7 separate regions of the Homo sapiens genome follow, and regions 1, 2, 3, 4, 5 and 7 are each linked to region 6. Evidence: fine-mapped expression QTL. A gene starts in region 6. Each other region holds a variant in brackets. All regions are shown on one strand. Distances are from middle to middle. Region 1 holds the start of LOC105378573 (a long non-coding RNA gene). Region 2 overlaps TUBGCP2 (tubulin gamma complex component 2). Region 3 has its middle 51 kb from the start of LINC01168. Region 4 overlaps CFAP46 (cilia and flagella associated protein 46). Region 5 holds the start of LOC105378574 (a long non-coding RNA gene). Region 6 holds the start of VENTX (VENT homeobox). Region 7 overlaps KNDC1 (kinase non-catalytic C-lobe domain containing 1).

Evidence for each region.
Region 1: its variant is fine-mapped to the expression of VENTX in whole blood (TOPMed, PIP above 0.99).
Region 2: its variant is fine-mapped to the expression of VENTX in whole blood (TOPMed, PIP above 0.99).
Region 3: its variant is fine-mapped to the expression of VENTX in whole blood (TOPMed, PIP 0.94).
Region 4: its variant is fine-mapped to the expression of VENTX in T cells (TOPMed, PIP 0.90).
Region 5: its variant is fine-mapped to the expression of VENTX in whole blood (TOPMed, PIP above 0.99). The same link has a PIP of 0.9 or more in blood mononuclear cells.
Region 7: its variant is fine-mapped to the expression of VENTX in whole blood (TOPMed, PIP above 0.99).

What each region holds. Positions count from the first base shown.
Region 1 is chr10:133,215,583-133,219,877 of GRCh38, reverse strand. It overlaps KNDC1 (kinase non-catalytic C-lobe domain containing 1), which reads right to left. Exons shown (of 30, transcript NM_152643.8): 27 at 925-1,047; 28 at 788-847. It overlaps LOC105378573 (a long non-coding RNA gene), which reads left to right and starts at 1,041. Exons shown (of 5, transcript XR_007062351.1): 1 at 1,041-1,195; 2 at 2,461-2,626; 3 at 3,553-3,618. The variant T/C (reference allele first, on the strand shown) is at 2,576.
Region 2 is chr10:133,283,037-133,287,331 of GRCh38, reverse strand. TUBGCP2 (tubulin gamma complex component 2) reads left to right here. Exons shown (of 18, transcript NM_006659.4): 12 at 1,704-1,876; 13 at 2,119-2,247; 14 at 3,330-3,450; 15 at 4,111-4,254. Among named protein-coding and RNA genes, the nearest start is that of ADAM8, 8.3 kb to the right of the region's middle. The variant C/T (reference allele first, on the strand shown) is at 2,317.
Region 3 is chr10:133,014,058-133,018,352 of GRCh38, reverse strand. It overlaps LOC112268067. Among named protein-coding and RNA genes, the nearest start is that of LINC01168, 51 kb to the right of the region's middle. RefSeq lists an enhancer at 4,182-4,295. The variant C/T (reference allele first, on the strand shown) is at 2,013.
Region 4 is chr10:132,936,590-132,940,884 of GRCh38, reverse strand. It overlaps CFAP46 (cilia and flagella associated protein 46), which reads left to right. Exons shown (of 58, transcript NM_001200049.3): 5 at 2,132-2,296; 6 at 3,210-3,333; 7 at 3,830-3,924. Among named protein-coding and RNA genes, the nearest start is that of CFAP46, 3.8 kb to the left of the region's middle. RefSeq lists enhancers at 1,799-2,524, 2,525-3,252. The variant T/C (reference allele first, on the strand shown) is at 2,102.
Region 5 is chr10:133,194,740-133,199,034 of GRCh38, reverse strand. It overlaps KNDC1 (kinase non-catalytic C-lobe domain containing 1), which reads right to left. Exons shown (of 30, transcript NM_152643.8): 10 at 3,214-3,372; 11 at 1,900-1,977; 12 at 1,267-1,360; 13 at 536-698; 14 at 1-457. It overlaps LOC105378574 (a long non-coding RNA gene), which reads left to right and starts at 2,699. Exons shown (of 2, transcript XR_946511.3): 1 at 2,699-3,894; 2 at 4,034-4,295. LOC105378573 (a long non-coding RNA gene) reads left to right here. Exons shown (of 5, transcript XR_007062351.1): 5 at 1,761-1,839. The variant A/G (reference allele first, on the strand shown) is at 2,341.
Region 6 is chr10:133,235,313-133,239,607 of GRCh38, reverse strand. It overlaps VENTX (VENT homeobox), which reads right to left and starts at 1,753. Exons shown (of 3, transcript NM_014468.4): 1 at 1,453-1,753. The coding sequence starts at 1,693. RefSeq lists enhancers at 966-1,569, 1,570-2,174, 2,175-2,778, 3,988-4,295.
Region 7 is chr10:133,178,610-133,182,904 of GRCh38, reverse strand. All of the region lies in intron 3 of KNDC1 (kinase non-catalytic C-lobe domain containing 1), which reads right to left. Among named protein-coding and RNA genes, the nearest start is that of KNDC1, 21 kb to the right of the region's middle. The variant G/A (reference allele first, on the strand shown) is at 2,377.

The DNA.
Region 1 (4,295 bases), 20 kb after region 6:
GCCCAACCAGTCCCAGCGGGTCCTGCGTTCTCCACGCACGGGGTCTACCCGGCTCTCTGAATTAGCTTCCAGTCCCGAATGTTCCTGGATGGTTGGACTTGGCTCACACCTGCGGGGTCTTAAGCTTTCACGGCCCTGACAGCCGCTGGGAGGTTTTGTGCCTCCTGCTGCTGAAATGGTGAGTCCCTTTCCTTGCTCTCTGCTGGACTCCAGGAAGTGCCAGGTAACCCAGCTTCCCTAAATGAGACCCCGGCTGACCAGAGCAGGGCCCCGTGTCTGCGTGTCCAGCAAAGACATGCAGGAGCCGTCCCACCCGTGGACAGCTGTGGCTGGGGCTTGAGGCCGAGCTCTGAGACCCAAGACGGGGACAGGCTGTGGCTGCTCTGGGACTCGTCTGAGTCATGTTTGGGGATGGCTGGTCACTTCCAGCAGCAATTCCTTGTTCATCATCTCATGAGGCCACCCCTGCCGTCCTGGAGGAGGTCCAGGTCGGTCAAGCTCAGGCCCCAGCCACAGACCTCAGTGCTGTCCTCTGGGCACCTGTGCTCTGTGTGAGGAACTCAGACCAGCAAGGCCCCGGGACCGAGCAGGTGGGACACCTCTGCCCAGGTGGCAACAGAGGCCCTGCCGGGAGATGACTCCAAGGCCTCCGTGAGGCCACCCTGGCTGGGCCACCTGCACACACTCTGTGGTGCCTGCGTCTGGGTGCGGCAGGCTCTGCACAGCAGTTCGTTTAGGAGAGGGCCTCGGGGGACCAAAGCCGCCCGGCCACGTAAAGTGCTGGTACCTCCACGGCTTTCAGCTCCTCCATGACCTCTGCTATCTTTGCAGGCAGAATTCTCCAGGCCTGAAATGAAAGCACAGGTGAGCCTCCTGCGGCCGTGCGGGTACCCACCCCCGCCTTGGGGCCCGAGGGGGACGCACAGGGGACTGCCTCACGGCCAGGTGCTCCAGCCCGCTCAGGATCTGCATGGCTGTCGCGAAGTTTCTCTGCTCATAGCAAGATTTTGCAATCAGCAAAAATTTGGACAGCAAGTTCACCTGCAGCTGCAATAAGAAAATGACACATTCAGCGTCTTCTGGTTTAAGATGAACAAAGGGAATATTTGAGAACCTGTTAAAATCACCCAGCTCCAAGACACAAGAGCGTGTGCTGCATCACGTGTGTGGAAAGGAAGCGGCTGTGTGGACGCAGGTGAGCGGTGGCCGTGGAGGGGCTGGGCTGGCGGGACGGGGTGGGCATGACTTGAAATAAAACAAAATAAAAGCAAAGCCTGATACGCGGAAAGACTTGAAAAGAAGTCCACCCTCACTTCTCAAAAGCAAGATTGTGCCTGGATGCACCTCCCCAGGCAGCTTCAGGACTGGGAAAGGCGACCCCACCCAGGGAGAGGCCGCTGTCGTGTCCACAGGCAGATGGGGAGCCACAGGCAGCTCCGTGCCCACCCCCCAACCCGCTGCGCCAAGCCCGTGGCAGGAGTGTTTGGGTGCAGTCCGGGGTGGGTGCCTGAGTGCCGCCCCCTCCTCCGGGGCTCTGTGGCTGGCGGTGACGACCTTGCTGGCCTTGGTTGGAACACCCCATGGGTGGTGAATGCCTCACCCAGCAGGATTCCTATTCTGAGCAGTCCCAAAGGGCTGCGTTCCTGGATCCACTTCCAGGGCTTCAGGAAGATTCTGGAGAACTCAGCTGACCCCTCCTGTTGTAGCTGCCTGTCCCTGAGGAATCACCTTGGCCTGGGCCATCCTTTGGTGGAAACCAAGGCTGCAGAGTCCAGCTGGACGCCATGCCCCGGATCGACTCTTTTTTTTTTTTTTTTTGAGATGGAGTCTTGCTCTGTGGCCCAGGCTGGAGTGCAGTGGCGCGATCTCGGCTCGGTGCAGCCTCCACCTCCCGGGTTCAAGTGATTCTCCTGCCTCAGCCTCTCAAAGTGCTGGGATTACAGGCGTGATAATTTTTGTATTTTTAGTGGAGACAGGGTTTCCCCATGTTGGTCAGGCTGGTCTCGAACTCCTGACCTCGTGATCTGCCCGCCTTGGACTCCCAAAGTGCTGGGATTACAGATGTGATAATTTTTGTATTTTTAGTGGAGATGAGGTTTCACCATATTGGCCAGGCAGGTCTCGAACTCCTGACCTCATGATCCACCCGCCTTGGACTCCCAAAGTGCTGGGATCACAGCCGTGATAATTTTTGTATTTTTAGTAGAGATGGGGTTTCACCATGTCAGCCAGGCTGGTCTCGAACTCCTGACCTCATGATCTGCCTGCCTCAGACTCCCAAAGTGCTGGGATCACAGGCGTGATAATTTTTGTATTTTTAGTAGAGATGGGGTTTCACCATGTCAGCCAGGCTGGTCTCGAACTCCTGACCTCGTGATCTGCCCGCCTCGGACTCCCAAAGTGCTGGGATTAGAGGCGTGAGCCACCGCGCCTGCCCCCGGGCTCAACTCTTGTCTGCAGGGCCCCTGTGCAGCTGAAGGCGCCTCATGTGATCCTGGGCTCACCCCGACTGCGGCCCCAGCCCTCTTGCCTGAGCGCCTTGAGAGGAGCTTGAGAAGTGTTTACCGGATACACT[T/C]TCTACGCTGACGTCTCAGTCTGTTTCTTCATCGGTTTAAGTAGATGCAAAGTATGTAATTTTGAGATAAAACTATTTCGCCACACTTTTTCACTGTTGTTTTAACCTTTTGATTTTTAATTGTAAAAAGTATGTAATAGAGGATTTACCTTTGTAGCCTTTTCTGAGTGCACGGTTCAGCCGTGTTAACTACATCCACACTGTGCAGCATGTCTGCGACTCTCCATCTTCCCAAACGGAAACTCGGTCCCCGTTCAACACGAGCTCCCCGTGCCCCACTCCCAGCCCCCGGCGCCCACCCTGCTACTTTGTCTCCGTGAATCTTGCGCCTCCAGGCGCCTCGTGTACGTGGAGCCGTCCACTGTCCGTGCTTCGCGACTGGCTCGTTTCCCTGAGCCTGAGTCCCTCGAGGTTCATCGTGCTGCCGCAGGCGTCAGAATTTCCCTCCTGTTAAGGCTGAATAAGTTCTCAAGGTACAAAGAGGCCGCATTTTCTTTATCTGTTCTTCTCTCCGTGGACATTTAGGTGCCTCCACCTCTTGGCTATGGTGTTCCATATTTTTAAACAAATCTAAAGAAACCAAAGCCCTATTCTGCTTTCAAACTCCCCATTTTTATTTTTTATTTTTTTTGAGATAGGGTCTCGCACCGTCGTCTAGGCTGCCGTGGTGCAACCTCAGCTCACTGCAACCGCCACCTCCTGGGCTCCAGTGATCCTCCCGCCTCAGCCTCCTGAGGAGCTGGGACTCCAGGTGTGCGCCACCAGCCTGGACAATTTTTTATATTTTCAGTAGAGACGGGGTTTCGATATGTTGTCCAAGCTGATCCCAACTCCTGGTCTCAAGTGATCTGCCCTCCTCGGCCTCCCAAAGGGCTGGGGTTACAGGCATCAGCCACTGCGACCGGCCTGCGTTTTCTTAAGGTGAGAAATTTTACGCTGTTTCTTCCTGCTTCTGTTTCCACCTTGTCTCCCTCCAGACGTCGTCTAAACGGTGCCACCAAGACATTGTCTGAACGGAACCACCGACCCCCCATTTTCTTCAGGTGAGAAATTTTATGCCGTTTCTTCCTGCCCTTGTGTCTCCACCTCGCCTCACTCCAGGCATCGTCAGAACGGAGCCACTGACCCCCGAGCATTTTTATTGATCACTGCTGCCCTCTGTGCTCGAATTTTGTATTTTAATGATTTTCTGGGGTCCTGAATTTACAAATGTGAAACTCAGTGTCCTGGATTGTTCCGACCTCACAGCCATTGAGACACAATACGTCAGGACATCGTGGCTCTAACACTTGTTAGATGGACGAGCGTGGTGCTTTTAGAAGTGGGTCTCCGGCGAGGTCCGTCCGCTCCCGTGAGGAGGTGAGGGGCCTGTTCTGAGCGATCCGCAGCTCCCTTTTGCTAACGGGGATGTGGCAGCAGTGCCGAGCTCTGTCCCGGCCACGCTGGGTGCCAGCAGCCCTGGGTGTGAGCCTGCACGACTCTTGCCCACCCTGCAGACCTGTACACGGGTGCGTGACCAGGACGAGCGGCCATCCCGGAGACCCTCAGGCAGGGCCGCCGCAGGCTCGAGGTGGGTCTCAGGCTGGGAGGGGCAGTCCTCCACCCGCTGGGGCAGCTCGGGGTGAGGGTGCGCCCAGGACGATGTGGGTTGGCCAGGTGACAGCCACCTGTCCTTGTGCTCATCCTCATGAAGCCTGGCCACACGGGCCGTGCGTGAAGG
Region 2 (4,295 bases), 48 kb before region 6:
GTTGATTCTTTGGCTGTTTGGCAGGGTTTGCCTGGGAGCTCTTGGGCCCTGGGTTTGTCTTTGTTGGAGACTTTTGAGGGGGACTTGGCCCCTTGCTGGCCACAGGTCTGCTCAGTCCCTTTCCTCTTGGTCGGCTGTCTGTCTCGCATCTTGTCTGGTGCACAGTTCATGGGTTTCTAGTATCTGCTTTTTATTTCTGTAAGATTAGTAGTTATATCCCTTCTTTTTCTGATTTTAGTAATTTGAATCTTCTTTCGTCTTAGCTGATGTAGCTAGAAATTTGTCGATTTCATTATCTTTTCAAAGAACCAACTCTTGGGTTTGTTGACTGTATTTTTCTGTTTTCTCTCTTCTGTCATCTTTGTTACTCCTGTCTGCTGCTTAGGGGTTCAGTGTGGTCTTCTTTTTTCTAGTTTCTTAATTTGAAAAGTTAGTTTACAGCTGTAAACATCCCTCCGAGTGCAGCCTTCGCTGATCCCCTAGCGTCATAATTTCTGTTTGTCTGGAGGTGTTTCTGATTCCCTCTGATTTCTTGTTGGAGCCGTGGGTGGTTTATGTTTAACTTCCACATGTTTGTGAAGTTTCTGGTTTTCCTTCTGTTGCTTGTTTCTAACTTTATCTCCTTGTTAGAGAACAGACTTTTTGTGATTTCAGTTTTGTGAAATGTATTGATTTGTGTAGTGGCCCCACATCCATCCTGGAGAGTGTTCCGTGCGCGCGGGAGGAGGATGTGCCCTCGGTTCCGTGCGCGCGGGAGGAGGACGCGCCCTCGGTGCTGTTGGGGTGGTGTTCTGCAGGTGGGTTGAGGCCGTGTCTTTCCTCACTGATCGTCTGTCCGGCGGTTCTCTCCGTGGTTAGAAGTAGGGCACCGAGTCTCCCTGTCACTGAAGAACTGCTTTTCTCCTTGTCATTCTGTCTATTCTTGATTCAGATATTTTGGGGTCTCTTGTTAGGAGCAGGAATATTTTCGTAGGAAAAATTCCTGGTAGTGAAATTGTTGGGTCACAATACATGGCCCTTGTATGACTAGGCTGACCTTGCTGGAGTTGATGGAGTCCAGTCTCAGGACGCTGCTGTCTGCACACCTGCGAAAGCTCCCACCTTGGCTATTTGATGGACAAGTGATGTCAGGGGCTCATTTCTGCGTTTGTGATGGTCACGATTTCGTCTGTCCGCTGCTTGTTTCTTCTTGCTTTATCCCCTGCCCTTCATTTCCTGTCCTGTCGTTGTGCGATGGTTTTGTAGGAACTCTGTTGCGGGTGGTTGGAACTTAGCAAATACTCGAGTGATTAACGTGAGGACAGTATTACTTGCTTATAATAACTATTATGTCCCTCGTCAAATATGCTTCATTTTTCAACCTGGGCCTGGTGCTTATCATGGTACAAAGGTTTTCGTCCTAAGGAATCACGTTTCTTTCACCGTCCTTAGCGGTTTTTCCCTTATACCACCCACAGCAGCAGTGGGTATTTACAAAGTAATTCATCTGAATTTTTGTTGTTTTGTTCTGATGGGAAGTGGTTCAGTTTTGAATTTGATTTATCAGTAGATGTTTGGGTTTTTGAAAAGCCTCTGATATTTAGAATCGGAATGTAGGGAACCTTACGTCAGCGCTGGGTCTGTGAGCGAGGATGGCGATCGGGATGCGACTTCGGGTCTTTTCCTTAAAACTGGATGCTTTGTTTCATTTCCTTCCCTCCAAGATCGACCTGATGCCCCATGACCTCATCACTCAGCTCTTGCGCGTCCTGGCCATCGAGACCAAGCAGGAGAAGGCGATGGCGCACGCCGACCCCACGGAGCTGGCGCTGAGCGGCCTGGAGGCCTTCTCTTTCGACTACATCGTCAAGTGGCCCCTTTCGCTCATCATCAACAGGTGCGGGTCGGCTGCTCGGGCACCTGCCAGATCTTCACTCAGGTTTGGCAGAAGCGAGAACTGTGCCACGCGGTGGCCACCTCGTCCCACAGAGGACCCAAGGCGGCTCTCCCCGGCCTTCAGTGTCCGAGAGATTCACGGGCTGTCCGGGGGCCACGGTGCGGACTGTGGAGTACAGACGCCGTGTCCACGACGCCGCCGGTCACGGAGGCCCACCTGAGGTGCCGCCACGTCTCTTGCAGGAAAGCCCTCACTCGCTACCAGATGCTCTTCAGGCACATGTTCTACTGCAAGCACGTGGAGCGGCAGCTCTGCAGCGTCTGGATCAGCAACAAAACCGCCAAGCAGCACTCGCTGCACTCCGCCCAGTGGTGCGTTCTTCCTCTGCCCCCGCATGCCCTCCTGAAGCAGCGCTCGCTGCACTCTGCCCAGTGGTGCAG[C/T]GCCCCCCTTGTGCCCTCCTGGTAGACAGCTTTCTAGGCTTCTGGAAGTGTCATCTGGAAGCGCACGTTGGTGGCTTTAGATCCATAATGCTTCATTGCTTCATTTTCCTGTCTTGGGGCTGCACGGCGCTGCCGTCCACCCCACAGGGGATGCTGGCTCTGTCCCTCAGCCCTCTCTGGAGCCTTGTGGTGACTGCACGGGCATGGAGACTGCCCAGGTCGGTGTGCAGGACACTAGCTCCTCCCGAGAGCGGACAGCCACATCTTGCTGGGACCAGAGGTGCTTTGCAGCCGGTCTGTGCCTCTAGGGTGTTGAAAAAAGGGGTCGATGGCAGAGCTTCATAAGAATTTGTCCAGTCGGGTGCAGTGGCTCATGCCTGTAATCTCAGCACTTTGGGAAGCTGAGGAGGGAGGATTGTTTGAGCCCACAAGTTCGAGACCCGCCTGGACAATGTAACAAGAGCTCATCTCTTAAAAAAAAAGAAAATTATTTTAATTAGCCGGGAATGCCTGTAGTTCCAGCAACTCAGGAGGCTGAGGTGGGAGGGTTGCTTGAGTCCAGGAGGTCAAGGCTGCAGTGAGCCAAGATCGTGCCACTGCACTGCAGTCTGAGCGACAGCAAGACCCTGTCTCTCGAAGAAAAAAAGAAATTAGAAGAAAAAGAACTCATCTTGATGATGAAGCACAAATATGCATCTGTTGTGTGGCACTTTCCTGGCGTGGGCTCCGAGGGGTCCGTCCACCAAGGAGCCCGCGTCCCAGTCTCCACCGTCCAGCTGGCTGGGGGTGTCCCTGCAGGGCACAGGTTGGTAGACGGTGACAGCTTGTGCTGGGCAGACGCAGGAGCAGCGGCCGTGAGTGTCTGGTGTGCTGGGAGGGGCGCTTGCTCTGCAGAGGAAATAGCCACGTCCAGAGAACGTCCTCCATGGCTGTCCTCCGTCCTCCGTGTCACTTGGTGGGCGCTGTCGGGGCCGCGTCCTCCATGGCTGTCCTCCGTCCTCCGTGTCACTCAGGTTTGCTGGGGCTTTCACTCTGCGGCAGCGAATGCTCAACTTCGTCCAGAATATTCAATACTACATGATGTTTGAAGTGATGGAACCGACCTGGCACATCCTGGAGAAAAACCTGAAATCCGTGAGTTTTAGCTCCACAGATAATAACGTTTGAAAGCCACTTTCCTTTCACAGGGAGACAGGAAGTGCAGGAGAGGCAGGGCGAGGGGAGAGGCAGGGAGTGCAGGAGAGGCAGGGAATGCAGGGAGACGCAGGGAGTGCAGGAGAGGCAGGGAGTGCGGGAGAGGCAGGGCGTGCGGGAGAGGCAGGGAATGCGGGAGAGGCAGGGAGTGCAGGGAGACACGGAGTGCAGGAGAGGCAGGGCAAGGGGAGAGGAAGGGATCCCCCAGGGCGGGGCTGCACCCACACTGCTGGCCACACACGGGACCCCTTGCTGCCTGCCGTCCTAGGGGGACTCTGAGCCGTCTTTGCCCCGAGGTTGTCTCTCCCACATTGCGCATCTGAGGCTGAGGGGCCTGAAGGCAGAATCTGTTGGTACCAAATTCCAGAAGCTGCCGCAGCCTCCCTTCCTGTCTTCTGCCTTAAGAAATGAAACCCCTTCGGGGTGTGCCCATCATTTTTTTAGTGGTGTTTGGAAGTTTTCCCCTAAAAGCCCAAGGCCCATTTAAGAGGTAGAAGTGCGTAAACAGGAATGCACAAAGCCAGAACTGAGCACGTGCGCATGCAGGGCCCGTCTGTCAGCCACGTCTTTCTGAGAAGGGGCTTGGCCTGTTCCCCGCAGGCCTCCAACATTGACGACGTCCTTGGCCACCACACAGGCTTCCTGGACACCTGCCTGAAGGACTGCATGCTCACCAACCCCGAGCTGCTGAAGGTCTTCTCCAAGCTCATGTCTGTGTGCGTCATGTTCACCAACTGCATGCAGGTGCGTGGGTGTGGGTAGCACCATCGGGTGGGCAGGCGCGG
Region 3 (4,295 bases), 220 kb after region 6:
CCAGACGCCCATGTGGCATCCGTGTCTACCAGACGCCCATGTGGCATCCGTGTCTACCAGACGCCGTATGTGGCATCCGTGTCTACCAGACGCCCATATGGCATCCGTGTCTACCAGACGCCCATGTGGCATCCGTGTCTACCAGACACCCATATGGCATCTGTGTCCATTAGACCCCCATATGGCATCCGTGTCTACCAGACGCCCATGCGGCATCCGTGTCTACCAGACGCCCATGCGGCATCCGTGTCTACCAGACGCCCATGCGGCATCCGTGTCTACCAGACGCCCATGCGGCATCCGTGTCTACCAGACGCCCATGCGGCATCCGTGTCTACCAGACGCCCATGTGGCATCCGTGTCTACCAGACGCCCATGTGGCATCCGTGTCTACCAGACGCCCATGTGGCATCTGTGTCCATTAGACCCCCATATGGCATCCGTGTCTACCAGACGCCCATGTGGCATCCGTGTCTACCAGACGCCCATGTGGCATCCGTGTCTACCAGACGCCCATGCGGCATCCGTGTCTACCAGACCCCCATGCGGCATCCGTGTCTACCAGATGCCATGTGGCATCCGTGTCTACTAGACCCCCATATGGCATCCGTGTCTACCAGATGCCCATGTGGCATCCGTGTCTACCAGATGCCCATGTGGCATCCGTGTCTACCAGACGCCATGCGGCATCCGTGTCTACCAGACGCCATGCGGCATCCGTGTCTACCAGACGCCATGCGGCATCCGTGTCTACCAGACGCCATGCGGCATCCGTGTCTACCAGACGCCATGCGGCATCCGTGTCTACCAGACCCCCATGCGGCATCCGTGTCTACTAGATGCCCACGTGGCACGTCAGCACCTGGCGCCCGGAGTGGCTGGGGTCTCTGTGAACGGAAGTGGTGTGTGGCCATACATGAGAAATGGTTGGACCCCTCCTTGCCAGGCTCAAGGTGTCCTTGGAGGCTGGCAGCCCCGGCCAGAACCGTGCAAATTTTTCCAAGGTGGCGCTGCCTCACAGGTGCCTGCACATTCCAAAGACTCAGAGAACCGCATGCGGCCCCCTCAGCTGCACGGGGGATGGGGAGACCCGCAGGGAGCGTGGCGACAGGGACTGTGGCGATGGGGAGCGTGGCGACGGGGAGCGTGGCGACGGGGAGCGTGGCGACGGGGACCGTGGCGACGGGGAGCGTGGCGACGGGGACCGTGGCGACGGGGAGCGTGGCGACGGGGACCGTGGCGACGGGGAGCGTGGCGAGAGGGAGCGTGGCGAGGGGGAGCATGGCGACAGGGAGCATGGTGACAGTGACCATGGCGACAGGGAGCGTGGTGACGGGGAGCATGGTGATGGTGACATGTCTGCTGCCCAGTCGGCCTCCAGTCCTTGAGCCTTGGAGGGGCCAAGGGATGAAGGGGGACGACGGTGAGCTCCACCTGTGCCCAGCCCAGCGGGAAGGAAGGAGGGAAGGAGAGCGGTGGGGTCAGTGGTGGGGCAGCAGCTTCCTGGCCTGTTCCTGGCTCTTTCCTGGGTATCTCGATGCTGCGCTTTGATTGTAAATGGTCCAGCACAAAGGTGGAGACGGGCAGCCCTGGCCTGCTCGCCCAGCGGATGAGACCATCTCAGGGGCTGGCAGTGGGGAGGCAGGCGCTGCCTGGCTGGGCCCGCCCTGGATGCAGCTTCTCCACGATGCCCGGCCACGGCACAAAGGACAAGAAACACGTTTGTTCTGAGTCTCTCAAATAGGCATTCTGGAACATTCCCTTCCACCTGACTCTCCCCAGTTCCTAGTCCCCATCGACACACCTCACTGAGGGCCCCAGACTCCTGGAGAGCCATGGGCTGGGCTCTGGTGCTCTAACCAGATCCATCAACTCCAGCACTTTTAGGAAGAGACCCCCCGGGGCAGAGTTCCTGGGTGAGGGCTACCCCGCTCCCTGGCCTGGACCCTGCCCACTCCAGGTCCTGCAGCTGCCATGGGGCGATGCCGGTGGCTCTGGGCCTGGGCTGCAGC[C/T]GCTTGGTTCACGTTCCGGAGGCCCCGGCTCAGCGCCGGGCAGTGGCTCACGGTGTTCTGAGCAGGCGTTCTGGGCAAAAGCGCCTGCTGGGTAGCGCGGCTGAGGCCTGAGGGTGGGTGGTGCTGAGGTGTGTGCAGAGCTGCCTGGGCTGAGTCCCCGGTGCAGGCGGGCAGTGTCTGCAGCGAACGGAGGCCATTTCGAGTTCAGGTTCCCACAGCCAGAACAACCCTTCCCTGAGGCCGGCCTGTGTGCTCAGAGGTCAGAGTTGCAGGCCCTGGCATCTGCTCTCCGCATGAGGCCCAGAGGCCACAGCACACGTGTCTGGGATCGCCCAGTCCCACCTGGGACAGAGGAGCCTGTGACCCCCGCTGTGCAACCTGCCTCCTGCCCTCGAAGCCATGCGTGGGTGCAGTGCCTTCCCCGACGCCTCCTTCCAGGGGTGCGGACTCTGCGGCGGAGTCTGCAGGCTGTTTGAGCTCCCTCCCGAGCCCCCACTTCTCCAGCCTGTCATAGCCCTGCGGAGGGTCCGAGAGGCAACTTCTGCCAGCGTTTAACACAGCTGAGAGAACACAGAAACTTCTCTTTTTTCATTTTTCCAGAAAGCAAACCCAAGTACTCTTGTCCCTGGCCCAAAAAACCTTCCCAGGACCACCACCAATTCCAGAGTGCAGGCCCAGATGCCCCTGCCAGCGTGTACCAAGTGTGAGTTTACCCATCGGGAGGGGCCTTTCGCAGGGTCTCTGCAGCGTCTGTCCCCCCACCCCTCAGTGTCGTGTGGCAGGAACCCCACCTGCGTCCTGGGCGCCCCCTTCCCAGTCGAGACCCCACTCAGGAGCACCTCGGGTTGCCTGCCCGCTGGGTCCGTCCGAGCCTGGCCCCTCGAGGGAGCTTGCTTGAAAGATGCACTGTTTTAATTAACTAGAAAAATGTTTCGCTTTGGCTTTTCAGTAAATATTTCATTAGTAGTGGCGGCGACGTCAACAATACTTCCGGCTGAGGGGCTTTCTTCCTCTAGGGAGCGTTAAAGAAGAGCTGCATATTCTATGCAGCTTCCCTGGAGTTTATGTTCATCCAGAGGCCCATCCAGAGGACAAGACGCCAGGAAAACTGCAACAGAGACAAGGAAAAGCGTGGAGGATTCACCCTGCGGCCCGGACATGTCCGTCCCTGCCAGCCGCAGTGAGGGCAGGTGCACAGGAGAGGCCTCCGGACACGTCCGTCCCTGCCAGCCGCAGTGAGGGCAGGTGCACAGGAGAGGCCTTGGCCTGCAGCGGACGCCCAGGACTTCCTTCCACCGGAGCCGGCCTGGCCTGCAGGGAGCAGCATCTCTTCCTGCCCAGAGGCAGCCCGGGCCTCCCAGAAGCCAGGGAGGGGCTGGGGCTAGAGTGTCGGGCCCCCATCCATCACATCAGCCATGCCATCTCTTCTGTCTCATGCCCAGCAGTGGCCTCGGAAGGCTGACCCAACCAGCAGGCCTCGGGGACCCGCCCTGCTCCATCCCGGCCCTGCCGCCAGCACCATTGGCTGCCTGAAACTCCTGGTCCCCCTGCAGCCCTTGCTGTCTTGAGCCACCTGCAGCTGAGCTGCCTCTTGGCTCCCGACTTCCCCGCCACAGTGACCCTGACTAACCAGGCTGCCCGGGCATGGTGCATACTGAGAGCTCTGGGACCCCCGAGCCTTCCCGGCCCCGTGCCTCCCCCGCCTCCTAGGCGCCCCTCACGTCACCTGTGGGTGCAGCTCAGACCCAGGCACAGCAGCTGCGTCGTGCGTTTGGGCCTGCTCGAGCCCTGCTGGGCCTTGTCTCTGCCCTTGCACAGGCCGGGTTTGGCAGAGGCTCCACTGGAAGCCAAGTGGGAACCTCTGGAGGCGTCCACCGCAGTCTTCACTGCACCTCCATCCTGACGTGTCCTGCCGGGTGGCCTTGGTTGCTGGATGTGGCCTCCTGGTGTCTTAGACCAGAGGGGCCTGCAGAGCCCACCGTGGCTGTCACCCCACGGTCCTGGCAGTTGTGGGTTTCTGGACAGGGTGAGGACGCTCACATCAGACAGGCAGCAGCCCGAGGCCTGGAGCCCTGGGGTGGGGGTCCTTGCTGGAGGCAGGGCCAAGCGTGGTGAGGGCTGGAGCCTTCTCCTCCCACCTGAGCCTCACACATCCCAATGCCCCGAAGTATCTTTTTTGTCAAGGTTTCTGGACCCTGTGTCACCTGCGTGGCTGCAGCCATCTGGGTGCTGTGCCGTGGTCTGGAGTTTGTGCCAGGAGCGTGTGGCGCGCTGTTGAAGGGA
Region 4 (4,295 bases), 300 kb after region 6:
TCTGTGATTTTCATGCACGTGTGATCACTCCCTCATCTCGTCAGCGTGTGGACAGGCCACATTCATGCCGAATTCCGAGTAACAGCCTCTTTTGCACTCGGCGGTTTTCGTGATTTTAGATGGCTGTGAAGAGTCTGTTTTCTGCCGGGCGTGGTGGCACATGCCTGTAATCCCAACTGCTGGGGAGGCTGAGGCAGGAGAATCACTTGAACTCGGGAGGCGGAGGTTGCAGTGAGCCCAGATCACGCCACTGCACTCCAGCCTGGATGACAGCGAGACTCTGTATCAATAAAAAAAAAAAAAGAGTCTGTTTTCTCCAGGGCCTCCCCGGGCGCACCCCCAGGGCGCCTTCTCCTTCCCCACGGTTCCTTCTTCGGCCCAGCGTGCCTTTGCTGCTCCCTAGCGGACAACTTGGCCAAGGCCGCTGTCCCTGCGGAGGCGACTCCAGCACTTTCTACAAAATCAGTGCTTTCTGCACAAAAACAAATATCATGCTTCAAACTGTTAAGCTTGCACAAAACTGATTCATATCCTATTCAAATCAGTTTTGTGCAAGCTTGACAGTTTCAAGCATATTTGCTTGAACATATATCACATATTCAAATAGGATACAATGTTTGGAGGATATTTAAATAGAAGCTGTGGGTTCCCTGGTCTGTTCTACCCACATCGGCCTGCTTGTCTGCTGGTGGCCTTCTCTGGTCACACCCTGTTGCAAGTGCTGGGGATGTAGGGCCCAGCCCCACAGATCCTCTCTGCATGGGGACAGGGACGGGGAGGCCCCACCTCAAGCCACAGATTCTAAAGACAAGGGGTATTTCCAAGGGTGCTGTGACGCGGGAGTGGTGGGTACCATGGGAAGGAGGCTGCTCTGCTCCAGGGCCCTCAGGGGCACTGTGGACGGGTCAGGGGGTGACAGAGCCTTGCCAGAGGTCAGGACCATCTTTGGGAAGGGTCCAGGTTGTGTGGAGAGAGAGGGCAGCGCTGGCTTGTCCAGGGCAGTGTCAGTGGGACAGGAGACTGTGAGCCCAACCACGGGCATGTGGAGGCCACAGTGGGAATTTGGGGAGAGCCACTTACAGGGAGGAGACGGGTTCCTTTCGAGACGCAGCACTCAGGGAGACGCAGCACTCAGGGAGACGCAGCAGGCCGCTGGAGTCCCATGATGACCCCTCTGACTCAAGCAGGCGTGACCGTCTGGTCAGGACACCCCGCACCTCCGCTCCTCTCCTGAAAACCTGGAAACAGGATGAGTCCTGTCCTAGGGTCACGTGGTGGCTCTGAGTAAACTCAGAGGAGTGGGCTTGCCACAGCCACCCTGGTGTCCTCCTCCCACCTGGGCATTGAGCAGTGCTGGTCCACCTGGTGGCCGGCCCAGGACCACAAGGCACACAGGCCCTACATGGCAGAGCTGGCCTGCCCCACTGTGGAGTGGCCCTAGAGTGAGAAGGGCAGATGGGCCCGGATTCCCTTACTTCAGTCCCTGCAATGCTCCCTGCTGCCCAGGGAGAGGCCCAGACCCCTGAGAGGGGTCTCTGCTCACTCTTCCAGCCCACCCTCCTCCACTTCACACTCTATGCTGGCAGACGGGAACTTTGTTTCCCAAAGGTTCCTCCCTTCTCCTCCATCTTCCTGACCTTCTTTTCCTCTACTACTGTCTTGGCTGCCTCCTGACATCTTTCAGGTCACAGCAGGCATGTAACCTCCTCCAGGAAGCCTTCCTTGATTCCCTCTGTCCTTGCCCATTCTTGTCTATCCCTTGAGAGTCAGAGGAGGCCTTGCCCAGTGGTGTATTTTCATGGGAGGGGGCCGATCAGTTTGTGGAATAATTGATGAAGAAGGCCCTGGTCTGGACTCGGGAGCCTGTGGCCGGGTCATCACAGCCGGGCCTGCGCTGGAGCCATGGCACGTCGGACGCAGGGTCGCCCAAGGCTGTCCCAGGGAAGGGCTCTGCATCCTGGTGCTCCTGCAGGCTGGGCCAAAGCTTCTCAGGTGGGGCTGCTGCCATCTGCTGGAGAGGACCTGAGGCCCCTCCTGGGAGGGGCTCCGGAGACACAGCGGCCCCTTGGTTCTGCAGCTTGGGCCGGCTGGGCTTTGAGCG[T/C]GCTCTCTGCTTCCTCTGCTCGCGCCGCAGGTACTACTTTTTGGTGTACAATGCATCAGTCCTCTACTGGCAGATGGTGAGGCCGTTCCTCAAGCCTGGATATCGTCACCATCTGATCCCCAGCCTTTCCCAAATCATAAACGTGCTGAGTCAGACTGAGGAGGAAGACAAGGAGTGGCGTGCTGAGCTGATGCTGTGAGTTGAGCTCGCCGTGCCCTCTGTGGCCTCCCGGTGGGCCGCCCTCTGGCTCTGAGGCCACCACCCCTTCTCCGGGGGGGGGACGGGAGTTCCACATCACTGGGGCACACTCCATGTGCGTTCTCTCCCACAGTCACAAGTTTCTGTGTGTCTTGTCCGAAGGTCGTTTCCAAAATCTGTAGATGACATTTGCCGTGCCCTGGTTATGAGGTTATGACAACAGAACAAGATACTGTGTTTAGACTCCCAGCAAAGCAGATATGATCCTGCCCCACGCAGCCTGGCTCACGGTTTTACAATCTTAGTTCTTAAAATGGTAACGCAGTAGACGTTTTAACAGCGTAAAACTAAGCAGAGTCAGCACATGCGGAGCCCAGGCAGCCCTGCGAGGAAGTTGGGGCAGCACAGGGCAGGCCGGCCTTGCTGGGTCTCAGCCCTGAGGGGTCACCGCACAGGCTGTCACCAATGCTTCGGTCACTGTGCCGGGCGGCGGAAAGGAAACGGGTCCGAGCCTCTCTGTGTCTGCGGCACTCTCTGTGCAGGCTGGGGACGGGTGGATGTCCCCATTGAGGATTCCAGCTGTGCCAACTCCAGAGCAGCTCCCCTCGGCACCAAGCCCACAGCCTGCAGGTGTTGGTTACTTGCCATATGGCCGTTTGGGGAACCTTTGAAGAATATCAATACAGATCTTTCATTTCAAAATGCCCCGGTGCTAGCGGTAACGAGCTGTCTGGCACCTGCTGGCCCTTCCTGGTGAGCCACACAGCCTGGTTCTGGCTGAAGAAGCTGACCCCAGGGTAGCTTTTAAACTTTGTGAAACACAAAATATGTAATGGTTTAATAACCTGGTTATTAGATAGGAGAAAACAGTTTCAACCAGGTTGACCAGTGGTGTGTTTCTATTATCCAGGGAACTTCTGGAGTGTTATCTGCAAGCCGGAAGAAAGGAGGAGGCTGCCAGGTTCTGCTCCACGGCAGCTCCGTTCATTAAGTCTCACGTGCCACAGAAATACCGGCAGATATTCTCTGTTATGGTAAATCAGCGTATTAGAAATAGAGACGTAAGAAGTAATTTTCTTAAAAGTCATTGTTCAGAAAACTGCGTAGAAATTACATAAGTTTGCTGAGAGATATAAAAATCTATATGCATACATACATGAACAAAATTACATAAGCATATTAAAAAGAAATAGCAGTTCATCCAATGCAAAGATGTATAGAACTGTGACATTTAGAAAACAAAACAGGGTCTTTTGCCTTTATCGTCGCTCTTTAAATATTTCCTTTGTAATAGCTTTGAATTTTTTTAAAGTTAATAGAAAATTCACAAAGATACAAGTAATTACTACAAGAATATGTACCAAAAGCATTCATTCATCAGCAGTCCATTTTGACATATGGGGAATCAGCTTAAGTTGTATCTGAAAAGCTAGATACAAAATTAATGAGAAAATAAAATCTAGACACAAAATCTGAACCTCTACCGAATTGTTTGAATCCAGATTAATAATCTGCTCCATTTTATGACAGGTTCGTCATGAATTAATGGACGAACTTCAGTTAAAGGAAGAAAAGAAAAATTCCATTAGCCTGTCAGTCACTTTCTATATTAATATGCTAAAGGCGTAAGTCGTTTTGGGAGGGAGAGCAAATACTGAGTTTCACAAGTGCTGGGCTTGGGAGAGCTCTGTCCCCTCCATGGGGGGAGGTCCTGTGTCCAGGGGCCTGTGAGTCTGGAGTTGCAGTGAGTGGGGCTGGAGAATAGGAGCCTGGGAGACCTCAGGGTGTGGGGATCCGAAGGCCACCCCAATTCCTGGCCCTGCCTCCCTCCCAGCACAGAGGAGAGGCCAGTGAGGCCACAGAAGGGAGAGGGCGGCTTTAAGCCAAGTGCAGAAAGAGCCTGTAGGAGGAGATCATGGTGTGTTTGGATGCCGAGGGGAGTGAGGAGATCATGGTGTGTTTGGATGCCAAGGGGAGTGAGGAGATCACAGTGTAT
Region 5 (4,295 bases), 41 kb after region 6:
CTGGCCCGGGCGCTCGGTGGCCTTGCTTCGTGGGGGCTTGGGCGGGTGGCGTGGGCCGTGGTGGGCCGTGGTGGGCCCCAGGGCGTCGGGCCTGAGGCCCCCGGAAGCAACTCCAGGTGGGATCGGCTCAGCCGGCCCTTGCTCTACGGGCAGCGCAGATGCCTTCGTGGGCGGGGCGGGGACTGGAGAGCCGGGAGCTGCCGATGAGGCCCCCTCTGGCTGGTTTGCTGGGGCCTGGGGTGGAGGGCAGGGGCGGCCCTGGGCTGAGTCACGCTGCACTGACGCCCCAAGAGGCTCTGGGGCTGCTCCCTGTGGCCCCGGACCAGGCACCGGCCCGTCAGGCGTCTTCAGGCTGGGGGACCCAGCGTGGGCCTCCAGGGAGAGCTTCTCCTCACCTTCTCCCTCCCTCTGGCCGCCCCTCTCCTCGGACTCCTCCTGGGCCAAGGCAGGCTGGTCCCTACGGGAGGAGCAGAGCTCAGGAGGGGCTGCCTGCGCCCGGGACCCAGCAGCTCCGGGGTGTGGGGACGATGCTCACCTGGCCACACTTGCGTTCTGCGCGAGGACAATGGGCTTGAAGTGCGTGGCCTCGGAGGTGAACGCTGCAGGCAGCTGGGTGGCTTCTTCACCGCAGGGGTGCTGGCCGGGCACGGGCCCTGGCACAGCCACAAGCCCGGTGTCGCTGTTCACCGGCAGGAAGCCTGGGGAGCCAGGGGGCTGAGGGTGTGGGCGGGCGGAGTGGCCCCAGCACGTGCCGCACCACCGGCTCATCCCACCCAGTGCTCATCCCACCCAGTGCGTGGTGCCGCGTCCCCTCCCGCATGGCCCTGGGGGCTTCCTCTGTGCTGGGCCCTGGAATGGGAGGGTGGGTGAGACTGGTGCTTGGGGGAGGGCCAGCAGGCGGGGACGGGCCAGCAAGACCAGGCCCCACCAGAAGCCTTGGAGGGGCCTGCTGAGCAGGGCTCAGTACGGGGGTGGGGTGGGCTCTGTGTGGACTCTGGGGGTCTCCAGATGTGGGCTTGGGAGGGCCAGCTGCTGGGAGATGGGAGTGAGAACCTGGAGCTGGGGCCTGAGCGACTGGGAGTTTTGGGAGATGGGGGCTGGCAGGGGCAGGCAGGCTGGGCTGCATGGGCCACGTTGGCCGAGCTCTGGACTTGCTTCCCGGGTTTCCGAGAGGTGCCCGGCTGTGTCTGTCCATGCAGAGGTGGGGGCAGCTGTGGTGTCAGGTGCAGGAGCTGGTGGGGCAGCAGGGGCTGGTCAGGTCCCCACCTGGGCTGGGCTCTGGGGCTGGTGCCACACTGGGCTTCAGTTCAACCACTGAGAAGGCGTTTTGGAGGCTGATGGTCTCTTCCTCCTGGTACACCTGGGGAGGAGGTGACAGCCCTGGGCCAGGTGACCACGGAGCTCCGCCAGCGCCGGCAACACCCACAGGGCGTCCCCCACCACCCGCCGGTGCCGTGGAGCTTCCTGCTGGGGAGGAGCCGGGCATGGCGGCCACACGGCCCAAGCTCTGCAGCGGCTCTGCCTGGAGAGGGAGCCGTTGGGGCTCCTTTGCCTCCCAAGCCAACCAGGTTTCCGTGGGTTCCAGGGAGTGGGAGACGCCAGCACCACCCGAGACTCAGGGCCCACACTCCCAAAGCTCTCTGCGCCCGGGGTGGGTGCTGGGCCGCCGTCCTTGGGACCCTGCCCTGATCCTGATCTGGGTCCCTGGGGGCCACTGTGGGGCCTTTAGATGGGACTCGAGTGTCCCCCTGCACCCCCAGATGCACCCACCCACAGCTCGGTGGTCAACAGAGACCGGGGTGTGGGGCTGCCGGGAGCGGCCAGGCAAGGGCAAGTGCGTCCAGGAGGGAGGAAGCTAAGCGCGGCGGAGGAGGCGGCGGCCTGGCTGTTCTAGCCCACCTGGCAGATGGAAGCTCTGAGGTGGGCAAGGATTTTCCGGCTGTCCATGCCTCGCTGGAGGAGGTAGCTGCCGCACACCTGGAGGGAGGAGACAGTTCACACGTCCCGACAGGCCTCAGCCACGGCTGCACCGTCCCCGTGTCACTGGGTCCCCATCTGAAAAAGCTCAGGGCTGCCAGGAGGGTTTCCTGTTTGTTCTCACCGACACCCAACTACAGGCCCCGGACAAGCCTTTCTTAGAGCATTTCCTGAAAAGGGCTCACAGTCGGCCACTGTCCCCCAGGCTCCCTGGGAGGGCAGAATCCCAAACCCAGCGTTGGCCACAGACCTGGTAGCCTCGTCGCCTGGACACTGGCAGCCCTTGGTCACGTTCGCCTGAGCCCCACGCTCCCTGCCCCCGGCCACTCCTGTCCTCCCTTTATAAGCTCAGGCCTTGTGCAC[A/G]TGGGAACTGAGCTCAGCTTCCCCAGCTCTCAGTAGTTACTGAATAAAATCTGCTTTCACTGCTTGGCAGACGCCCAGCCGTGTCTAGATCTCATCCTCCTGCAGCAGAGGAGGCCTGAGAGGCCCACAGGGTCTGAGCAACCCGCCCAAGACCACAGAGCAGTCGAGGCGGAGACGGCTGGACCCAGGTCCCCAACCCCATGGCCGTCTCCGCTCCCCCAGACACGGCTCCTCCCCAGGAGGTCCTCCTGATCACCCACACCCAGCTCGGCTCCTCCCCAGGAGGTCCTCCTGATCACTGACACATGAGAGTTTGGCTCCTGCCCCACCTGCTGGTCCACCCGCTGGTCCCCATGCCGGGTGCGGGTGCAGGTCCCAGCAGGAGTACGTTAGAACCCAGCCCCAAAGCTTGAGTCCAGCAGGGAGACCAGGCAGGGAGGGGCGGGGCTGGTGGGATCCTCAGAGGAGGTGGGGGTTCGGGGTGGGGGGTGAGGTGTGGAGGCCTCTCTCTGCTCCCCTCCAGCAGGGCCTAAGAGCAGGGGTCTGCACGTGCCCACAGGACACCCCTTGCCCCCGCCCTGGCCTCTTGGACAAGCTGGAGAGAGCGGGCTCCGCAGGAGGAACGGCCATGGTGGGGAGCAGCAGAGACCCCCATGCTGTCCACCCACATGGACGTGGCCATGACGCGAAACCCACTCCCTTCCCCATGCGACGGCCAGGCCGACGTCTAGAAACAGGGACCTAGAAACAGACCTGGTGGCCTCATCACCTGGACACTGGCAGCCCGTGCTCCTCCACCCCCAGCTCAGCGAGGGCGGCCACTGCCCACAGTCCTTGGACCCTGGGCTGGGGCCATGACTGTGGTGTGGTTACCTTGATGGCCTCAGCCGCGGACGGCCGCTCCGGGGCACTGCGCCTGGCCATGTCCAGGAGGAGGGTCTTGAGCCTGCGTGGCAGGGCCAGCTTGTGGTTGCGGGGGACGCTGAACTTGGCTGCGGTCCACAGAACGGCGGCCACACAGTACACAGAGGCCTGGGCGGGTGGGGAGAGAATAGTGTCTACCGCAGGGCTGTGGGCTGCTGTGCCCAGCAGACCTGCCCACCTCAGGCACCCTGAGGGGCACCCAGGCACTGCCCCCACAGAGGGGCTCTCCTCAAGACCCCTCCTCAGCATCTATCAGGCCCCACCCTGGACCCCTGCATCCGCCTCCAGGTCGTGGTCCAGGAACCTGCAGGTCGAACTCTCCCCCATGGTTCTGTCCGCGTTTTAAACACCAGAGGGTTGGAAGCCTCAACTGGACTTTCCCACCTTCCACTCTCCTCACGAAGGCAGCAGCTCGAGGGTTTGAGGAGAACTGGCCAGCATAGCCCCCACCTCACGGACCCGGGAGCCCCCCGACTGGTGCCTGCTCCCGGAAGCCCCCCGACTGGTGCCGTGCTGCTACATGGCTAACAACTGGCTCTCCGAGCGAACACACCGCCTGTGTGCAAACTGAGTTCATCCGGCACGTTGCTGATGTAAGGGATGCACAGCACACCATTTGATGCACGTTTTGTAAGTTCCACAGAGCCAGTCAATTCTCACTGAAGGCTTTCATTGATAAAAATCAATGAAACCCATGTTCATCCACAGTCCACCACAATACACGAGTGCTGCTGACATGAGTGTTGGTTGATGTTTTCATTCATTTCAGTAAATGAGATGGAAGTGAAGCCGGACAGACCCATGCTGGAATTCGGGGCACCCCTCTGAGCGACGTCTTTGCTGAATCAGATGGTCGCGGTTGATATCGTAAGACCATGTCCTCCACCTTTTGGGCTATTCTCAAGGGAGCGGCCACAGACATGACACACTTTTAAGTTTAATCACATCATCCACGTGTTCTCCATCACTTCAGTAAGTCCAGAGAGTCAACAGAACAAGACATTTGTAGCGTTTGCTGCTTTCCCTGGTGT
Region 6 (4,295 bases):
ACAGGTGAAGACAGCCATGCTGGGGGCTGGGCAGGGCAGATCTTCTCACCTGACAGTGACCAGCAGCACCCCCGCCGCCTCCCAGGTCACATGCGGAAAGGGGGCTCAGAGAGGGGGCTCAAGAGGGGAGGGAATGTTAACAGCAGCTTGGGCCTGCCCTCCGCTCAGTCCACTCAGTTCCGCCCCATCCCACACTTCCCTTCCAGAAGCCGGTTCCCAGGATGCCCTTCCCACAGCCTTCCAGGCCGGTAAGGTAAGAATCCATTATATGCAAAGGCCTGGCGACCCACCCAGGGGCACCCATCCCTGTCCCGGGCTCCGTCTCCTCAGCCAGCGGAGGCCAACTCAGTTAATCCCCAGGCCCACTGTGGTCAAGTCTGTTTCCTAATTTCTAAGTTAAGGAATGGGGGCTGGCACCAAACGGCCCCACGAGGTGGTCTGTGGAGCTGGGTCTGGGTCCCAGGAAAGGCCAACGTGGCCAATCGAGCTCGACATTAAATGCAAGTCTGACCAAAATGCTCGCTGGAGTTTCTGCGGAAGGAAGCGTATTTTACAAAATCTGTCTTAACGTTAGCCTGAAAGCACATGGTAGACCCAAAAAGCAAATGCCTTCTGGCAGGGAGGGCTGTAGGACTGGCATCAGAAAGGGGGTTGCGGGACAGGGATGGCTGGCTTTTTTGGGGTGGGGCAGGATAGCTAGCTGGGGAGAATACATTTAAATTTTCATTTCCCTTAAGTACAAAGTCACTCCATAAGGATCAGTCAAATTTTTAAAAATGAAAACTTGTAGATGATGTCAACCCCACTTTTGACCAAGTACTACCTTAAACCTAAAAGTGGTGATGATGTCACAAAGACTAAAACACAAACGCAGAGAACCTTTGTTCTCAGCAGACAACAGAGCATCTGGGCGGCCACAGAGGGAACTTCAGAGTTTCTGCAGGCATCGGGGTCACCGCCACCCCTGCAGCGAACCTGCAGGCTCTTTAAAGACAGCTGTGCTCCAGGTGACCCGGAATGGGCTTGAGCCTAGACGCTGAGCAGGCACCGGCTGTGCTGGGGGGCGGGGGCGGGGGGCTTGGCAAATCATCGAGACTTTCAGTGAGCGCCCGGAATCAGGGCAGGGAGGTGCGGACGGGGACCCCTTGGACGGTCCCTCGGCACCAGGCCGGGGTGGGGGACGAAGACACAGCTGAGGAACGGGGTGACAAAAGGAGGCAGAGGAGCCCACCGGGGGCTCAAGGAGAGGAAATCCCCGTCAAGGCTTTGGTTCCGAGGGAAGCTGCGCTCCAGTGAGGGCGCCGGCAAGGCCTCCGCCGGCCCTCATGGAAACGCCCCCGGCCCTGACCTAGTGGGCAGGGCACCGCGGGGAGTGCAGCCGCCGGGCTCCTGGCCTCTCCCCCACTCCCATCTCCACCTGGGAAGGAAGGGACCCCCCCCACCCGGACCTACCGGCCATGGTCCTCTCCGGCGCAGGCAGATTTGAGGACCCGGCGGCCTCCTTGATGCTGACGGCCTGAGGGGGCTCCCGGGCGCCGGATGTCTGGCCTGGGCCAGGGAGGCTCCCCAGGGAGAAGTCGGCAGGCCTGGGGGTGTGGGTCGGCCCTGAGCAGCTGCTCTGGGAGAGCCAGTCCACGGAGCCAAAGCTGGAGAGCTGCTGCGGGCCACGAGGTGGGGAGGAGGAGAGGCGCATGGCGGCCAGGTGGGCCGGAGGGAAGGCCAGGCGGGGCTGGCCAGGCGCAGGATCCACCTCGGGCCTCGCCAGGCGGCGGCGTTTATAAGCCCAGGAGGAGGGGGCGGGAGCCCGGTTTGCATACACGGCTAATGCCCAGATAAGCAGCGCCTAATTGCCTTCGATTCAGAGGCACAAAGGAGGCCGTTCACACCTCCCCGGCTCCTCGATGTCTGGGGGAGGGGCGGGGCTGCGGGCCCTGGTTAATGGAGAGGCGATGGTTCGGGATCGGTCACCTCCTTTCATCTCTCCCAACCCCCCACCCCGCGGGCCGAGGCTGCAGGAAGGTAGGAGGGTCCCACTCCCACTTGGGCCTGTCCTGGGAGGTGCCGGGCGACCTCTCCTCTCCAGGGGGACGCTGGCGCCTGTGCCCAGCCCGGACACCCGAGGGCGAGCAGGCTTCAGGCTGGGAGAGTCAGGGCGGACTTAGGTTGGGAGCAGGCTTCGGGGTGGGAGAGTCAGGCCGGTGCCCGCGTGCGCTGCGTCCAGGCTGTGCGGCCGCGCAGGAACCGAGGGAGGCTTTCCCGGGAAAGAGACGCGGAGGACCCGGGGAGCGGCGCGCGGGGGCGGGAATGTCGGGAGGGGCCTCTCGGGGGACTCGGCCGCCTCCAGCCCTAATCCGGCTCCTCTGGGGGACTCACTCCGGGGCCATCGCAGGAGCCTCTGCATTCGGGCGCGGGCGGCTCCCTGACTCCATCCCGAGCTGGAAGGGCCGGAGCCACTGCCTCGCACGGCGGGGTAGGAACTCCGCGTCGGCGGCGGGACTGGTGCGTCCCCGCCAAGCCAGGCTGTCCCCACTGTGGCCAGGGCGCGGGCAGAGCCGCCGGTGACTGTGGCGCCCAAACCTCACGGGGACGCCCTGAGCACGGGCCCCCGGGACGGTCATAGCCACGCGCGGCCGCTGCTCCCACGAACCTGAGTCCCGAGCTGTCTGCGTCTCCGCGTCCCCGGGTCGCCTGCGCGTCGGCGTGGGGCGCGGGGACCGACGTGACCGGGTGGGAGGCAGCCATGCCGAGGGTAGGACGGTGTCTTCCGCGCACTGGCTTGGGGTCCGCACGGCGTCTCCGGCGGCCGGAGTTAGGCGGAGGCGCAGGTCCGGCCCCCGAAGCCATGCGGGGTTTCGGCGCAGACGCGGGGTCCACGGAGCAGCCCCGACTCCCGGCCAGGTCCTGACCGCGGCTGCCTCAGCGCCCACGCCGCCCGCGGAAATCAGAAAGACCGGCGGGCCTCGCCCCACGGTTACGCCCGCCCCAGCCAGCCGAGCCTCCCGGGCTGAGCAAAGAGGTTGGAGCCCGGGAGGCGGGCGCTGGGGCGGGACCTCAGCCGGGAACCGATCGGCGGCCTACCTGGGGTCACAGGAGAGGGGTCGCGGAACGGACCGTGCCGCCGCTGACCCTGGTCTTCCTCGGACCCTGCCGGCCCAGTTAGGTCACTGGGCCCTCAAGGGGGAGGCTGGCGGGGGTGGGGCGCTGGGGGCTTTGGACGTGGCCTCGGGGGTAAAGCCAGGAGGGGTGGGGGGCCAGGAAGCCGGCCTAGACCCCCGCTGCACTTCATCTCCGGAGAGACCGGGTCACCCCCGGTAGAGGGGCTTTGAGCCACTGCACAGGACCGGCAGTGTGTCCCGGCCAGGGGCAGCGAGGGCCCAGATGCCTGTGGCCACAGGGCTGGCCCCGAGGATGCCCCATGGGGCAGGTCCCCAGCACTCCCGCAGTGGGGGCGGTGCCTCAAAGTGGAGCAAGACAGCACACCTCACACATCCCGCAAAAACATACAGAACGTTCGACAGGCAGGGAAAAGGCCCAGAAGCTTCCCTTACATAAAGAGGAACACCACGAGCATGCATTTCCGAAACGCCAGCACCCAGCCTTCCATTTCTCCATTTCTAATTTCCGGGGCCCAGGGCCCCGGTGTCTCAGCCCCCTTCTGTACGTGGTTCAGCACCCCCACCCCCAGCTCTACATAGAGCCCCTCCTGCCGGTTTCCCAGCCCCCCGCCACCACCTCCACCTGAACCGCCCCCTCCGATCCCCCCAAGCCCGAAGACAACCTCACCTTCACACGGCAGGGTCAGGCAGCCCCTCTCTCCTGCCCAGCGGCCCCACCACCGTGGCTCAGGCCTCCCCGCCTCCTGCAGCCCGGGCCCCTCCCTCCACCCTCCCTCTAGAGCCCGCCGAGGCTGCTCTAGCCCAGGCTTGGGGGTCCCCAAAGCCTCCGCCTCCAAGCCTCCGTCCACCCCCGGCTCTGGGACGCGCCCTGATGCGCTGCCATGGGTAGGAGACTTGGGCGCCCCCCTGCCTCCTTCCTCCCAGCCCCTGGGGCAGCCCAGCCCCGTGAATTGCGCCCCGCACGCCCCAGAGCGTGGTCCCCGCGGGCGTCGCCCTGTCCCCCACCCTCGGGGGCCAGGCCGGGTTGCGCTGGGCAGGAAGTCCCGCGTCACTCCCAGGCCGACAGCACCGCCCCCACGCACAGCCCGGAGTCCAGCTAGTCCCCGAAACGCGCTCCCCCCGAGTCCAGGGCCTGAGGACAGACACCGGGCCCAGCGCGTGCTGCCGGCCCCGTCGCGA
Region 7 (4,295 bases), 57 kb after region 6:
CCCACGCCACCCATGCCCTTGCCGCCTGCGCCCATGCCACCCACGCCCACACCACCTGCGCCCACACTGCCCGCGCCCTCGCCGCCCGCGCAGTTGGGCCTAGATCTGTGCTGGCCATGGCCCCGCCCCTCTGCGCTTTCTGGAGGGACACAGACTCCTCTGGCCTTTCAGTGTTTAGGTCAAAAACTTCAAAACCTCAAAAACTGGATTTCAGTAGAAGGAAAGATGGGTTTTTCTTTTTGTTTGAGAGTCTGGGTTTTCCTCCCTTGCCTGAGAGGGTGGGCTCTGCACGAGGTCCACCCTGGACACGGCCGCACTTCAGGCCTGGACACTTCTTCCCAGGACGGCTGCCTGTGGGGCTTCACCTTTCCCACAAGAGGAAGCAGAACGCAGAGCGGCTCAGGAACCTGCCTGGGGCCACATCGCAGGTCACACAGCTCATGTGTGGAGCCAGGACCTGACCCAGGGCCTGCTCTGCCCCCGCACCTGTGCTCCCAAGTGTCCACTCTAGTCCAGGCTGGCTGAGTGGACACGCACCTGCATCCTGGGCTGGCTGAGTGGACATGCACCTGCGTCCTGGGCTGGCTGAGTGGACGCGCATCCGTGTCCTGGGCTGCCCTGGCCCCAGGCCTCTCCCTGGGTGGTCTCAAGATATCGTCACAGAACCCTGAGACCCACCTCCCCAGTCCGTCGTGAGGTCCAAGGTGACCAGCGGAGCATCCAGTCTTCACAGAAAGCCCTGCATCCCGCGGCCCCAGGCTAGCTGGTCATCCTGGCCGACTCCCCCTCTCTGTCAGGGTCTGTCTCAGGGTCAGGCTGCAGGGACCCAGCCAGATCCCAGGGCCCCTGACTCCACCTGAGCCTGGCTCCAACCACTATCACCAAGCTCATCCAATTCTGCCTCAAACTCCTTTTTCTCCTGAGATGTCTTATTTGAACAAGACAGAAAGTGTCACAGAGAAGAAACCAGGTGCACCCAGCACCCCACACTTTCTTCTCTGGGGCATAAACTGCCTCGCAGGTGGTTCCACTTCCACAGTCTGGTGTGTGTGTGTGTGTGTGTGTGTGTGGACGGTCCTGGGGCTTCCTGGTCTGGACACGGGCACACATGCAGACACATACGTGCACACCCAGCACACACAGACAGCTGGACACGCATCTCTTCTCTCTCCCCAGCTGCACTCTGCCTGCATCCTGGCTTTTTCATGGCGTGAATCTCCTTCCCGGTCAGGAACCCCGGCTGACCTTCTCTGTCCCATGCCTGGCCCTGCCTCCCCCGCAGGCTGGTTTCTGCTTCTCCTCTACCCTCTCCCTCCTGCACCCTGCCTGGTGCCCTGGGGCAGCCCACCTGGCACACCAGCCAGGCCCCCGGCCGCTGGCCATCCCCACAGACTCCCTGCTGTGCACGCACCTCTGGTAGGGGACCTGGCACCTCCCTGTCCCCTCACGGCTCGCCTGGCACCGGCCCCAGCCACTGTCTCTGACTTTGCACCTTGGGCCAGGAGCCCCGATAGCTGCTCTGCTGCCAACTCCTGGGGTCTCCTGTGCCATCCGGGGGGGACCTGCCAGCCTCTCGTGCCTGGGCCAGGGTCCGCCTCCCTGGGGGACCTGTGACATGCATGTTTGGGCACACAGGGTCCGTCCCCTCCGCTCTGATGCTGCTGTGGGTGCTTCCCATGTTCTGCTGTCATGACCGACACTTCCCTGGGTGCCCCATGTGGCATCTGTGGGTGCCCCGTGTGGCGTCAGTGGGTGCCCCATGTGGCGTCAGTGGGTGCCCCGTGTGGCGTCTGTGGGTGCCGCGTGTGACGTCAGTGGGTGCCCCATGTGGCATCTGTGCAGCCATGTCAGGTGTGCAAAGCCTCAATTCCAAGAAGGGGGATGCTGGGTCCCAGGTCACCTCCACTTACAATTCTGACAGCTGCGACAAACCCTCCTGATAAATGACCGTCCGGTTTACTCACCAGCCGCAGCCAGTCTCTGCGGCTTTGCCAATCTGTTAGAGTAAACTCACTCGTCGAGTTAATTTGCATTTTTGTAATTATGAATGAGACCAAGCATCTGTTCGTATCTACTCGCAGTTTTAATTTTTCCTCTAAATCCCCATGCAAGGACTATGCTTTCTCCGCTGAGGTAGGACTGCCGAGCGCCCCTGCGCATCAGGGCTCGCCTCAGCCTGGGCGCCGCACACACGCTTGCTGTGTGTGTTGCCAGCTTCTAACGTTGTGCGTGTGTCTTCTCACATCCAAGAGCTCTAAGTGCCCATGTGTGGAATCTGACCTGTTTATCTTCAGCAGCTTTGCAGGAGGATGTTCTCCACCCCGAGGCTACAGGGACAGCTTTCCTTTGTTTCTGCTAATATTTTTATAATTTTAA[G/A]ATATCCAGACCTAATCTGTTTGAAGCCTCACTCTCTGGGGTGTGAACTTGGAGGGCACCCTCCGGCTGGCACCATAAGGAAGGGCTCCTCCTGCCCCTGAGACGCTATCCTTGCAGCCGCGGAGCCTCACATCTCCAGGTCTCTGCATGGCCGCGGGCGAGGGGCCCCTTGGAGCCCAGAGGACGCAGTCGGCCCTCGAGGTGCAGAGCCATACGGGGCCTGCCTTGCACCGATGCAGGGAGCTCAGCATTTCTGCCTTCTGGAAGCTTCTGACCTGAAGGATGGTGCACCCTGAAGGAGGGAAACACAACTGTGTGCTGCCCGCGGGGGTCAGGAGACAGCGATACATGGAGAAACAGATTTCTGTGAGAAACTGTGCTGGAATCAGAAGCTGCAGTATTTGAGCCACCGGCGAAGAGCAGCCGTTTGAGTGAGTTCCCTGGGGGTCATGTTGCCAGGGAAGGCTCCTCTCAGGAAACAAGGACCTCGGAGGCCCCAGGGCAGCAGGACGAGGCTGGACCACGGGCAGGCGTCTGGCAGAGGAAGGGAGGGTGGGGCCCACTCTCCAAGCCTGTGGGCCAGAAAACCTGGGACGCTGTCCTGGGAGCACCGAGTGGCCCTGCCTGGCTGGGCTTGGCCGTCAGCGGAGGGAACAGGCTGGAGGGAGGCCGATCAGGCATGAAATGATCACACCTTAGGCCACAGGGCGACGGGGAGCCGGGTCGAGGAGGTGGACGTTGCAGCTTCCTGCTCCGGGCCTCTCTGTGGTCCAAAGCCTGCAGCTCCCACGGCGCCTGCGATCGCGATGGGCATCCCGGTAGCTCTCGCCTCGAGTGGGGACAGGGCCTGGCCACGCACGTGAAGTGGACGTGAAAACTTCCCCACGAGATGCGATTCCTGAGCAAACGCGGTCAAGCCAAGTGGTTTTCAGTTCAACACTGGTTGAAGTTTTTCTCCAAACTGAAAAGGCCACCTCTCTAGGGGGTAGGAAGCGGGTTACACTCTCCCGAGTCTCGCTTCAGGAAGCCCCTCCTCTGCTCTGCTGGAGATTCTTGGATCAGGGTCCAGGTCAGCCCTGGGAGGCTCTTCGTGGCCCTGGGAAGCAATTCCAGTGGACTTGAGGTGACTGGTTCAAAGAAGAATTGCGGCTGCAGCACTCAGCGTGGTGGGTCCACCACAGCCCGGGCCTCAGGAGGACACTGTGAACACGCACCTGGGGGCTCCCAGGACCGCCTGGGCCCAGACAGGGCCTCACTGGCCAGGGCTCTGCAGACAAATGGTTGATCAGATTTCGGGGCAGGAACCCCATAGAAGGGGCTGGAGCATCCTGCCACACCAGGAAGTGGGTCAGAGCCCAGCAGAGCTGCGTCCCAAGGACCGGGGTGCCTTCTGAGCTTCAGGTGGAATCAGCAGAACAGACAAAATCCCATCAAAGACGTGCGAATCTTAAATTCATAAGATCATAAAACCAAGCTCACTGGTCCACGTTGGAGGACGCTGGATGCACTCACTGCTTTGAAAACAGGTGGATGAAGAGAAGGAGTCGAGCCTCCCACCTCTCTGTCCACAGGGACTGTCTGCTGCGGCTGCCCAGCGTCGATGAGGGCGGCTCTCCTGAGAGCGGGAGCCCTGCTCACGAACCAAGGTGAGGACTACTGTGGCGGCTCGCAGGATTCATGGTGGCTGCTGACGGCTGTCAGGGAGCAGACACCACAGGTCCCCGGTGGGCCCTGGTAGGAACCTGAGTCCTACGGCACCCCTGACTGTCCTGGGCCTGGCCTTAGGGACAAACCACCAGGTTTTCAACAAAAACCACAAGGAAGAAAGAGAGTCGGGGGTGTGGGGTCATGAGAGACTCAGGAGGCACAGAGGCAGCCAGGTGTGTGGATCTCACTCAGATCGCATGGGGAGATGGCTG